Regions from separate parts of the Homo sapiens genome. Here regions 1 and 2 are each linked to region 3. Evidence: fine-mapped expression QTL. Tissue or cell type: whole blood. Region 3 holds a variant in brackets; each other region holds the start of a gene. Each region is shown on its reference strand, or each on the opposite one.

Region 1 (4,134 bases), not on the chromosome of region 3:
GCCACTTCCGCTTCCGTTCCTGGCCGCCGGGCAGCCGGAGCCAGCGTTACTGCTTCCGCTTCCGTCCCGTGCGCCTTCCAGGGAACGTGGCGCTATTGCTGTCTGTGGGTGCAGCCGCAAAACTTCAGGGACCAGTAGCAAATGTCCAGCCTCCGAATAAGACGAAAACTACCTGGGTAGACCGGGGAGTTGGGATGAAGTTGGGGAGGAATGAGAAGGGCGTCAGTGGGCCGCCCTGGCAGTAGAGAAGGGGACGCCATCGGAACTTTCCTTGCCAATCTGCCCCAACATCACTAACTCTGCCTAGTCCCCATCTTGGGAGAGGAGACCACACTACCTGACTAATCCAATCTGCTCCCTCAAACCTGTTCCTTTTCCATTTTTTTCTCTTTATTTATTCTTTTATATATTTCAAACTCATTTTACTGCCACATCAAACCTGTTCCTAAAGGCTGCCCTACTGTCTTGGGGTCACCCCATCTATTCCTATCCCTCACTTCCTGCCAAACAGCAAGCACTAACTATATCTACCTTGTCCACCTTGTTCCACCCATGGTCCTAGCCTCATCTTTCGCTCGTCTTGTCCTCACAGTACAGTGCTCAGAGACTATGGGGTTATGAACACTTCAGCCAATGCAAACGTGTTTACCTATGTGTAAATATCAGTAAAGCACTCAGTCATTCCTGGCATGCAGGAATGTGTGATACGGTCATTTTGTAACTTTTAACATTGTTACTATTTATTATTGTTTCTTTTAGATCAGGTCCTCTGGGAAATGGGACTCGAGATAGGGTTTTGCAGCAAGTTTGTTGGGGATCCACACTTTTTTTTTTTGAGACAGGGTCTCACTCTGTTGCCCAGGCCGGAGTGCAGTGGCAAGATCAATGCCGTCTCAGCTTCCTGGGCCCAAGCGATTCTCCCACCTCAGCCTCCCAAGTAGCTGGGACCACAGGCATGCACCACCATGCCCGGCTCATTTATTTTTAGTTTTTTAGAGATGTGGGTCTCACTATATTGCCCAGGCTAGTCTTGAACTCGTGGGCTCAAGAGATCCTCCCACCTCAGCCTCCCAGAATGCTGGGATGACCGGTGTGAGCCACCGCACCTGGTCAGGATCCACACCTTTAAGGGATTAAGACAAGCAGAATTGAGCAGATGCAATTATATTATAGGCCTCAGCCTATCCCACTAGGATCTCTGAAATTGGGGTAGCACTTCTGAAGGGTTCATGTTCACACGATGGTACCATGCTTTTGCACCCCAATATTGACTGAGAGACTCAGTGGTGTGATCTCAGTAGCCTACACTCCTGGCAGCTGGAGAATGAGCACTTCTGTCCTGAAGGGTGGATTTGGGTGGTGGACTGAACATCCACTAAATAATTACCACCTTATAGTCCCTTCCCTGGCTCCCTATAACTCTCAAGATAAACACAGCTGCCCAGTTGCGGTGACTCACGCCTGTAATCTCCCAACACTTTGGGAGGCTGAGGCAGGCAGATCGCTTGAGCCCAGAAGGCTGCAGTGAGCTATGGTGGTGCCACTGTACTCCAGCCTTGGTGACAGATCAAGACCCTGTCTAAAACAAAAAAGATAAACACAGCTTTCATGACCCTCTCCTACCACCCCCCACCACACCCCTCTTCACAAGAGCCTGCCACCTCTCACTCCTCCGCAGAGGTACACATCCTCCTCAGAGGCTGGCCAACACAGTTTTCATCCTGTGCTGTTGATGTCGTCTGCATCCATATCTGCACACTCTGCCCACCACCCCAGGTTGAGGCCAAGTCTAGCAAATCCCTATCTCCTCTCCTGAGCACTAAGAGGTTCTGGGTAGGCTGGTCAAGACTGGTTGAGTACAAGTACACCCCACCCCCCCGCCCCTCAGGGAAGTGTCGCCCAGCTGTCCCCACCCTCTGTGCAGACACTCTTTCCTGTTGGGAATAAAATGCCAGAGACTCAGCTTCCTTCCTTTCTGTTGATGGCCTTGGGGAGGGAGGAGCCTCGGTGGGAAGAAGGGGCTTCTGGGTGGGGAGTGGGAGAGAGACTTCCTTGGGGAGAGGAATTCAGCTGCACGCTGGAGTCAGCTGGAGTTGCCCAGGCCCTGTGAGCAAGTGGCAGGCGTGCCCAGCTGCATTGGGGAGAGGGCTGTTCTCAAGGCCAAGGTCATTTTTGGAGGGAGAACTGGACGCCTGATCAAATCTGGTAAGTTCTGTACCAAACTGTCCTGTGCAGCTCAGAGCAGGACCAGGGTCCAGTGGAGGCCTGTGCCCACTCTGTCTCGCTTGACATCTGCAGGGGCACGACTGGGAAACCTAGCAGGCAAAGCCTCCCAGGTGCCCTCCGCATCACACCCGCTCCCTCTCACTTCCCGAGGGGGCCGGGAAGAACCTCCTTCCTCCTCTCAGAAGGGCTTAGACAGAGGCAGCAGCTCACAGGGGCATCTACTCTGCCTGCTTGCCCCGGGCCCACCTCAGCTCTGGCTCCTCCAGGCCCACAATGGACTCAGCAGCCAAGGATGAGATGCAGCCGGCGTTGTCCCCTGGTATGAACCTTTTGGGTGGACTAGGGGAGGAATGATGGCAACAAAGATGGGACTGGCTGGGCGCAGTGGCTCACGCCTGTAATCCCAACACTTTGGGAGGTCAAGATGGGCAGATGACCTGAGGTCAGGAGCTCCAAACCAACCTGGCCAACATAGTGAAACCCCGTCTCTACTAAAAATACAAAAACTAGCTGGGCGTGATGGCACGCGCCTGTAATCCCAGCTCCTCGGGAGACTGAGGCAGGAGAATCGCTTGAACCCGGGAGGCGGAGGTTACAGGGACCCGAGATTGCACCACTGCACTCCAGCCTGGGCAACAGAGCGAGACTCCATCTCAATAAACAAATAAACAAACAAATAAATAAATAAATAAATAAATAAGAAAGCTGGGACTGGGGTCGTTGGGCCCTCCTCCCTGACTACACGGCTGCCCAGGCTCTTCCTTCCCAGGACCTGAGTGGCCAGAGCAGGAGCGGGCAGAGCAGCTGGCCCGGGGTGCAGCGCTCAAGTGGGCCTCAGGCATCTTCTACCGGCCGGAGCAGCTGGCCAGGCTAGGCCAGTACCGCAGCCGCGAGGTGCAGCGTACCTGCTCCCTGGAATCGCGCCTCAAGGTGGGCATGGGGCAGGGGGTGCGGGTGCTGGGACTGTGCTGCAGGGCTGGCCCAGCCTCATGGCTCCATCTTTCCACAGTCAGTGATGCAGTCATACCTGGAAGGCGTGCAGACTGGTGTGTGGCAGCTGGCCCAGGCCATTGAGGTGGTGCAGGGAACCCGGGAGGCCCTGAGCCAGGCCCGTGGGTTGCTCCAGGGCATGTCCCAGGCCTTACAGACTCTAGAGCCCCTACGGGAGCGGGTTGCCCAGCACAAGCAACTGCAGGCCCTGTCTCACCTGCTGCCTCGGCTGCGGGCAGGTGAGCATGCAGGGACCCTGGGCCTCAGCCTCCAATAGTCAGTCCACAAACACCCATCCCTAATCAAGGGGCTGGGGCACTAGATGGGGAACTGCATAGAGCAGCACACCAGGGACCTCCCAGACAGTAGCCCGGGCTTCCCATGGCCTATGAGGCAGCTCATCCTGGGATTCCCACGTGTGGGATGCTTGAGTCAGGACAGACACCCAGTCATGTGACTCTGGCCACCTGGTTATCAGTATATTCAAACTCTTCCCTAACAGAGTGGCTGAGCGAGTACTGGCAGGACCCCCCGATTTCCCCTGCCTTCCCTCCAGGATCCTCAGCTTCCTCATATTCCATGAGTTCATGGGTTGACCTCTGGCCCACCAGGTCTTTAGGACATTGCCAAGATCCTCTTAGATTGGCCAGTACTCTACTGGTTATTTATTTATTTATTTATGGTTTTTTGTTCATTTTTTGTTTTGTTTTGTTTTTGAAACAGAGTCTCACTCTGTCACCCAGGCTGGAGTGCAGTGGTGTGATCTCGGCTCACTGCAACCTCCATATCCCAGGTTCAAGCAATCCTCCTGCCTCAGCCTCCCCAGTAGCTGGGATTACAGGCATGTGCCACCATGCCTGGCTAATTTTTGTATTTTTAGTAGAGATGGGATTTCACCATGTTGGCCGGGCTGGTCTC
Region 2 (4,134 bases), not on the chromosome of region 3:
TACCCAATGCTGGACATGGGGAAGCTGATATCCAAGGTCCAAGATTAGGGGAGAGCCTGGATCCATTTAGTGATTTTTCCAGGGTCATGAGTGGGTGTGATAATAAGCACCCTCAACAAAAGACCAATTTAGGAATAAAACCTCAATGACAAATCAATGATCTGGAACAAAGATCATATCTTCAGGTTTGGTCCTTCTGACTTTCTTTAAATATATGCCTACCTATTTATTCTGATCTGTTAAGCTGATCAGATGGGTTTGAACTGAAAGGGGGATTATAAACAACTTTACAATGGGGAGGTCCTAACCAACAAAAACCTTTGTCGGGCTTTACTCCACTGAGTTGCGCGCAAGGTAGCATCACTGAGTTAAAAGAAAAAAAATCTAACAACTGGTAAACTATGTTGTTCTGTTTTCCCACTAGCTTGGTCTCTCTCCTCACTATGTAATTCCAGGAGCCAAAGGAAGCCACTTCTGTTCAAGGAGGATTTAACTAGGTTTGACTGTGTGGAAGAAAGCAGGGAAGGGGAGCAGGAAAACCCTTCCAGAATGGCTCTAATGAATATCATTGCTTGGCCCTCTCACCACTCCGTTTTTGGACAAGAAACCAGAATCCATCCTTGGAGCTCAAAGTTGAACTCTTGGGATTCAGCTAGAATGAAAACAACGAGGGGGCGAGATGAGGAGGCAACACTATGTCTGGCGCAGACCCTTTGCGCTCCCCCTAACAGACTCCCAGTGAGCCTTCCTTGGCTCTGCACCTTTCCTGTCCTCCTCCTCCTCATGCAGAGGCACTCTTGGGCAAAAGTGTCCTGAGTGCTATCTGTGGACCATTGTCCACCGGTGCATGTAGTCAGAGGGTCACAAGGACAGTGTGGATCGTGCTTCCTAAAAGTGATCCTGTCTCTCCTTTCTCTCCTTCGAGTATTCGGTAGCAGGTAGGGTGGTCTTGGGACACTCCATCCGCAGAAGGGTCCCCCTAGATCCCCAGAGAAAGCCCTGTCAAAAACCACACCCAGAGGCCTCAATTAGGTCCAGAGCCACCCCAAGGCATCATGACAGTGGGACTGCCAGTGAAGGAAGCCACACCCTGAAATCTGGGGATTCTGTGGAAATCAGTTCCTGCAGCAATCTCATGGCCAGTTAAACTGTCCTCATCCACTTATTTAATCATCACATTTACTGAGCTTGTACCACTGCAAAACCCTATGCTCGGCAGGCACCTTAATGCAACTTATTAACAAATATCTATTCTTTCTTCTGCTGCTCCTTAGTACTTTTTCCCAAATAAAATTTGAAAAACATTTTATGATTATGTTTTTCATCAGCTTTGTGACCTTGGGCAAATTGCTAAACCTCTCTGAGTCTCAATGTTTAAAAGGGGATAATTTCACAAAGCTGTTGTAAGAGTTATATGAGATGTTTAAACATACCTAGTATACTGCCTAGCGTACTGGTGCTCAACAATCCCATACATCCTTTATTCCTTCCTTCAAAGGCCTTTCCCTCCAGGACCTGCCAAAGTCAGTTATTCCACCTGATCTTACTGCTTCCTTCCGCACGGTCAAACCTAGGGGCTCAAATCTCCTATCTTTGCTTTAGAGGCCTCACTGGTCCTCATCCTCGGCTTAGGGCCCTGTGCTCTCGCAGCAGTTTCTGTCTCCACTAAAATGCAGCGTGGAGCAACTGGGCTACCATGGAGAAGAAAAATCCGAATGGGGAAAGAGGAGGAATGGAAAGAGGCTGCAGCCCTAGAAGGCCCCCACCTCTGGGCCACGGTGTGGGGATACAAGTAAGGGCACATGGAACCCTACAGGGATCCCGGTGGAGGCCAAAGTCCTTGGAGCCGTGGGAAGTCACTCATGGATCCCATGGGAGGATCCCCCTCCCCAGTCAGAGGTTGCTTCCCACAGTTCTAGGGCACAGTCTCAGGTCCTCCTTTTCTAGGGAGCCCTCTGGGGGCTCCACCACCTCGAGGTTCCTGCGGCTCCCCTATGTTCCCAGGTGGTCTTCCATTGAGCCAGCTCCAGAGACCACCCTTGTGCCTGCTCCCACAGTGACACAGAAGGGCTCTCTGGGGCCAGTCCCCTCCACGCTGGGGCTCCCTATGGCAGCAAATGCAGACAGCGCCGCGGGAGTCCATTCCCACAGGGGGTCTTTATGGGGGCGGCTCCCCACAGCACCTCAGGGACTCCCCCAAGGCGTAGAGGCAGCAGCTACTTGGGGTTCATCCAATGACACAGGGGGGCCACCTTGGAGGCGGCTCCCACACAAGCACCTCAGAGTCCCGGAGGACTGTCCGCGGCCGCAGACCCGCCCCTCAGGTGACGGCCCGGTCCCCGCCGCCCCCGCCCCCGCTTACCGGGACCGTCCGGGTGCGGGACGCGGCTCCGGGGCGGCGGACTCTACACACCGCGGGCCCCGCGCAGCCCACGGCAGCCCGAGAGCCGGCGTGCTGGGCCGAGCGCCGGCAGCAGGCGGCGCGGGCGGAGCGGCAGGCTGAGGAGGCGGCGGCGGCGGCGGCGGCGGCGGCGGCGCGCGCGGCCGGAGCACACCCACCCGCCCCGGGGGGCTGCGGCGTGTGCACCCGCGCGAGGTGCCCTGGGCCGGCCGGTGGGCGCGCCCCGCCCCGCCCAGTCCTCTTGCGCCTCCAGGAGACGCCCTCGCGGCTCCGCGGGCGGCGGGTGACCGGCGACGGGCGCGCGGGCGTGGGGCGCCGTGGGAATGCGGGAGGACGGCGGACGGCTCCGATGAGCAGACGGCCCAGGTGCCCGTGGGCGCCCCCCACGAGCGCCCGGCACTGCGGCGCGGGGACTGCGCCAGCGGCCGACTGCGGCAAGGACAGTGCCCGCCCGGAGGAGGCGGCCCGGAGGGGGCGCCTTGGGGGCGCTGGGGCCGCTCACCGCTCGCGTTCCGCGCCGGGGGTTGGGTGGGGGGAAGGCGGGGTCCGGGTGGATGCCGCCACCAGCACGTGCCCGGGGTGGGGAGAATGACTCATCCAGCAGGGCCTACCAGCCGTCCCCCGCAGGGCTCCGGGCTCACGACCCCTGGCACTGGGGCACTCACCTTTGCAGTACCCCACTGGCCTCCGGAGGGTCCCAACGAACCTTCACATAATCCTCGGCTGGCCCAGCCTACCCTATGCGCTGTTTTCTGGGATTATTGGTTTTTCATCTCCAGCAGCGAGGCTGTGCTGTCGTGTAACCCACTTTTTGCTGCAGCAACCTCATCCCTCACAATATCCAAACAGCTAGCTTGTCAGAAGGCCAGCAATTCTGAGGGCTATAATGTGCATTACACCAAACTACATGCTTTGAAGAGGGCAAGAAAAAGATAAAATCGTAAGATAGCCAGCAACTAATTATAAGGAAAAATTGAAGATATGCAAATGATATGTCGAGAGCCCTTTAATTTATATTAATTGCACTTACATTTTTAAAATACCTTTATTTTCTTGTGCATTCAATTTATTTACCTCAAATATAATGCATGTCATTTTTTTGAGCGTCTAGTATTTGTTACATACTGTGCTAGGTACCCTGGTGCGATATAAAAAAGAAATTTTGCCCTTAACATGGAATTTACCAATAGAGGATATAAGGCAAGTATGGTATATTTCTATCACTTTAAAACACGAAGTGCCAGGTACTATTCTAAATGGTTTAAATATGTTGTCATTAATTTTCACACCATCCCTTTGAGGGAGTCTACTGTTAGTTTCGACATTTTGCCAGTGATGAAACTGAGGCAAAGAGAGGTTAAACAACTCGCCCAAGGTCACATGGCTAATATGTGATGGAGGTGAGACTGAAATTCAGGTATTCTGATTTCATACCGCAAGCTCCTATTTCTCAGTCCTGCCACTGAGAAAGGAGAGGCTATAAACCATTAATATATGGAGTTCTAAAATTAGTACTTATTAGTTCTAAAATTAGTGCTTATTTCTCAAGAGACACTATGGTTATTTTGCTTGTTGTGAAACTAGCACTAAAAAGCAGACTGAGCCTTCCATATAGTCTGGGGGTCCCCCCCTAACTTTCTTTAGAATTACATCATACCGACAGTTTCACAGATAGACTTCTCTGAACTGTTTTTAGTAAGTGTTTTATTTCTAGGCTGTCTGATGGGCTTATA
Region 3 (4,134 bases):
ATGCCACAGTGGAGTTGATACTCGGAAGAAGACACAATATAGGGTAAGTGTTGTCCTTTTTCTTGGTAGGCTTTTAGCTTGCAACAAGACCTGGATGTGTGCCATGCAGCCTGATGTGAGGTGTCTGGGCCAACTGGGATTAAAGAGGCATCAGTGCAGGAGAGGGAGATTGGTTATGGCCAAGGAGATTAATCAAATAAATATTAAGAATAATGAGAGCTAGTTTCTTATTGTTGGAGAAGGATGTTAGAAATATAAAGGAACCAAACTAAAACTATGGTTCTGAATTGAAATCGAAGCTATCTGTAGATTTGTCCATATTATCACCTATGTGTAGGTATTTATACAATGATATGCCCTAGCTCTGTCTCCAAGAAATAGTAGAAACAGCAACATTCAATAGCAATGAGTACACCTAGATCCAGCTCTTGGTTTTGCAATACCATTTCCACCAAATGGGAACCATGGATCTTTGGAATAATGGTTGATTTCAAAGCTAGAACAGAGAAAATATGACATGAGCTTGGAATAGTTTGCTGTGATAAAGTAAGAAAGTTGTTAAGGTTTGAAAAGGAACACATTAAAAGGACACAGAAGAAAACTTGAAGAGGGTCCCACTGTTCAAATCTAGAAGAATTTAAACATTAAAATACATCAGTATAGTAATGGATTGTAATCCACTGAATTTAATAGGGAACCAATAGTTCATAGTGATATAGACAATAAATAAGTGAACAAATTATAACTTTAATGAGGCATGGGATATTTGCATAGTCTCTCAAAGCAGCTACCCATAAAACCCTCAATTAAAAAGGAAAAAAACAATTTTACAGTGAAGAAACATGACACTTACCACTTTAAGCAATCAAAGTCAACATCACTAGTAATGAAACAAATCGAAACTGTGTTTCACTTGATAGGACACAGCAAGACAAATCACAGCACAGCAAATCATGAGGAGACACCAGGCAAATCCAAATTGGGAGAAATTCCTAAAACACCTGGCCTGTATTCTTCAAACCTGTCAAGAACATGAAAGTCAAGGAGATACTGAGTAACTTTTTCAGGTTGAAGAAGACTAAAGAGAAATTATAACTAAAAGCAATGCATGTTTCTAAACTTGATCCCTTTGCTATAAAGGATATTTTGGACCAAATGACGATACTTGAATTGGGTTTGTGGATTGAATGGCAGTCATATAACAATTTTAGTTTTGTATTTTGATAGACTTATGGAATATGTTTTTGGGTAATTTATTTGTTTTTAGAAAATGTACTCTAGTTTGGGATAGATTGAGCATTATGTCCACAACCTGCCATCAATGATTTGAAGGTACAAACTTTTTAGTAGTGTTCTTGAAACTTATCTCTAAATTTGAGATTGTTTCCAGAAAACATTACTGTAAAAAGAAAGAATATGATCAATTTGGAAAAGTGCACATGGGTCTATATGTTTGTAATGTAAGATACATGAAGAAATAAATATAAGGTACATATTAGGTTTTGAAAAAATAGTGGGAGGTAAAGCTAGAGCTGTATTACAAAGAACCAAATGATTCTTATGTTTGACATTTTAGGATTTTATGGAAAGGAATGTCATGATCTTTCCATAAAGGATGGCATTTTAGAAAACAGCATTCCTGTAGCTTAACAGAAGATAGAAGGAAGAGGGTGGAGACACTT[T/C]AAACAGACAGAGTGACTATTTACAAAGCAAGTTAGAGGCAGACCGGGACTCAGGAAGAGATGCTTCAGATTTTGTGTCCATTGCATACATATTACAATTACAAGCCAGCAAGAACGGTTGGAGGGAATGGGTTAATTCTAAACCAAATTGTAATGGGACAAGGAACAACTGGGAGATAAAGAGTGGCAGATTTGGCAATCATGTATCATAATAGACACCTTGGATTTTTAGTTTTTTAATATACCCAGATCATTCCTAAATCATTCAGAGAAGCACAGCTCTATTGCCAAACATGCAAGGCTGTCCTACTGCCTCAGGCCGGCATGTCACCAGGCAGGCAGAACTGAAGCTGAGAGCCTATGGTTGGGACATTCTGACAAGAGTTGGGGAAAGAATGTTTCAGGTATCTGGTGGTACTTGTGACATTTGTGGGAGGTCTTGGGACCATACCAGCGAGGGCTCAGGATGGCAGATGTTTAATGCCACTCCATAGAGGCAGGTTCTGGAGAGGAGAGATGTGCATCGGAGTCTAGGGAACAGAGCTGAGGTTGGATGTCAACAGCAAACCATTGGGAGGGTCTTAGCAGACAAAGAAGGGAGAGCACATGAGGGCCAGTGACAGTGCAGTCAGAGGTGAGATGATATGCAAGCTGGTCCAATGGACACACCCCCCAACCTGTTATGTGGCTGCCCCTCCTGCTCTCTGTGGCGTCCTGAGCTAATCAGGCAGGAATGGAGACAGGCTGAGCAGAAACAGAGCTTCTCTGTTCCAAGAATGTCCTGGGCCTTTCAGAGGCATTATTGTGCTTAATACTTGCACTAGCCCACCAGGTGGTTATTTAGACTTCATTTATACATAGTAAACCTGAGGCTAGGCGCAGAAGCACAGTACTTAATTCAGTGGGAATCCAATGCTGTCTGACTCCAAAGCCCTAGAACTTGCTTCTGCAGCCCTGGCACTTGGCTCAGATCTACTTACAAGCAAGAAAGCTTGTAGAGTGATGCCCAGGACAATGGCAGAATATGTTCCTTCCATAAAGCTGTCAGAATTATAAAATTCAAGATGATGGAGAATCTTCGTATTTTTACCAGTAATCAATGGTGTATCCTAGAATTTTAGAATTCCAGGACTGGCTGAACTTAGTTGCCAATTTATCATTTTTATTTTTAACTGGTTTGCAAATTGTAGCACACGTAATTGAGGCAACTTCACAATGAGGACATTGGATATTAAAGCTCATGGAGGATCTATTAACTTTTTTTTATTATACTTTAAGTTTTAGGGTACATGTGCACAAGCTGAATGAAATGAAGTTTTAGTTACTTCCTATCAATGCTGTTCTCTCTCCTTCATGAATCTATTGCTTCACAGAAAATGTCTTAAAAGACAGAAAACAAAACAACAATAACGAAAAAACACAACCCCTGTCATCTGTTTTAAAACAGTTCTTATAATAATGATAGTTTACAAACTTGTGTGACTTTCAGATCATAATAAAGCATAATAAGTACTGACTATGCTTGTAATAGTTTAACAATTTAAAAATCATTTTAGTGACTATTTTATCATCATCTAAAATATAATCTCTCACTATGGCTACAAAAATAGATGGCAGCTGGTTTGCACATTACTATGATTTTGTGATATTGTTATTTGAATTAATTTGATCATCAGAGTTTTGGACACTGAATGGATTTTAGGTGCACTAAATGAATACATTGAAAATATAGTCAGTGTGACTGGTTTTGCTTTAACTTGAGGGACTTTGATTTGCACTTAAAACCACTTGGCTTCTTCACTCTTTTGTTGGACTTGCTTTTCATGGTCAAGGAACACCCTTTGTAACACTGGTTACACAACCGCCCTCCTGTGTGTTAGGCACAGAAAGTACTCACTACTCCTCTGTCCCACAATGTCCTAGGCACTTGATATTGTCAATCTTTAAGCTTCTTGCCACTGTAATATAATTGTGGCTTTGATTGGAATTCCCCTGCTTACTAATGAGATTGAGCATCTTTTTCATATTTTATTTTTCTCTTGCATGAAGTACCCATTGAAGTAATTTGTTCACTTCTCCATCGAATTGTCTTTTTTGTATCTATATATTGGGACTCTTTTATATGTTTTAAAAAATACTTGCTCAGTGATCTGTGTTGTAAATATTTTATTCCGATGTGTATCATCTTTTCACGTCTTCATTGTACCTCAATTTTCAGACCAATTGGTTAATCATTTCTGCGAATGTGTTTTTCGACTCTTTAAGAAAGTTTTCCCTATACATGGTAATAGTCTACTACATTGCCTTTCAAAACTTTTATAGTTTTGCTTTTAACATTTATGTCATAAATTTACCTTGAAACGATTTTAGTGTATTATGTGAGATAGGAATCCTAGTTCATTTTCTTCCCTATGTAAAAGTAATTGTTGCTGTCCATTTTCCCATGTTCTTC

Evidence for each region. PIP is the estimated chance that this variant, and not a neighbour inherited with it, causes the effect.
Region 1: it holds the start of EXOC3L1, and the variant in region 3 is the best candidate, but not a certain one, in a credible set for the expression of EXOC3L1 in whole blood (TOPMed, PIP 0.68).
Region 2: PHF24 starts here. The variant in region 3 is the best candidate, but not a certain one, in a credible set for the expression of PHF24 in whole blood (TOPMed, PIP 0.61).

Annotation. Positions count from the first base shown.
Region 1 is chr16:67,188,042-67,192,175 of GRCh38, reverse strand. EXOC3L1 (exocyst complex component 3 like 1) reads left to right here and starts at 2,040. Exons shown (of 14, transcript NM_178516.4): 1 at 2,040-2,205; 2 at 2,493-2,545; 3 at 2,996-3,156; 4 at 3,236-3,455. The coding sequence starts at 2,500. It overlaps E2F4 (E2F transcription factor 4), which reads right to left and starts at 21. Exons shown (of 10, transcript NM_001950.4): 1 at 1-21. RefSeq lists enhancers at 60-199, 1-298.
Region 2 is chr9:34,956,630-34,960,763 of GRCh38, reverse strand. PHF24 (PHD finger protein 24) reads right to left here and starts at 2,479. Exons shown (of 8, transcript NM_015297.3): 1 at 2,363-2,479. RefSeq lists a silencer at 2,352-2,431 and an enhancer at 3,781-3,920.
Region 3 is chr7:50,250,207-50,254,340 of GRCh38, reverse strand. No RefSeq gene overlaps it. Among named protein-coding and RNA genes, the nearest start is that of IKZF1, 52 kb to the left of the region's middle. The variant T/C (reference allele first, on the strand shown) is at 1,683.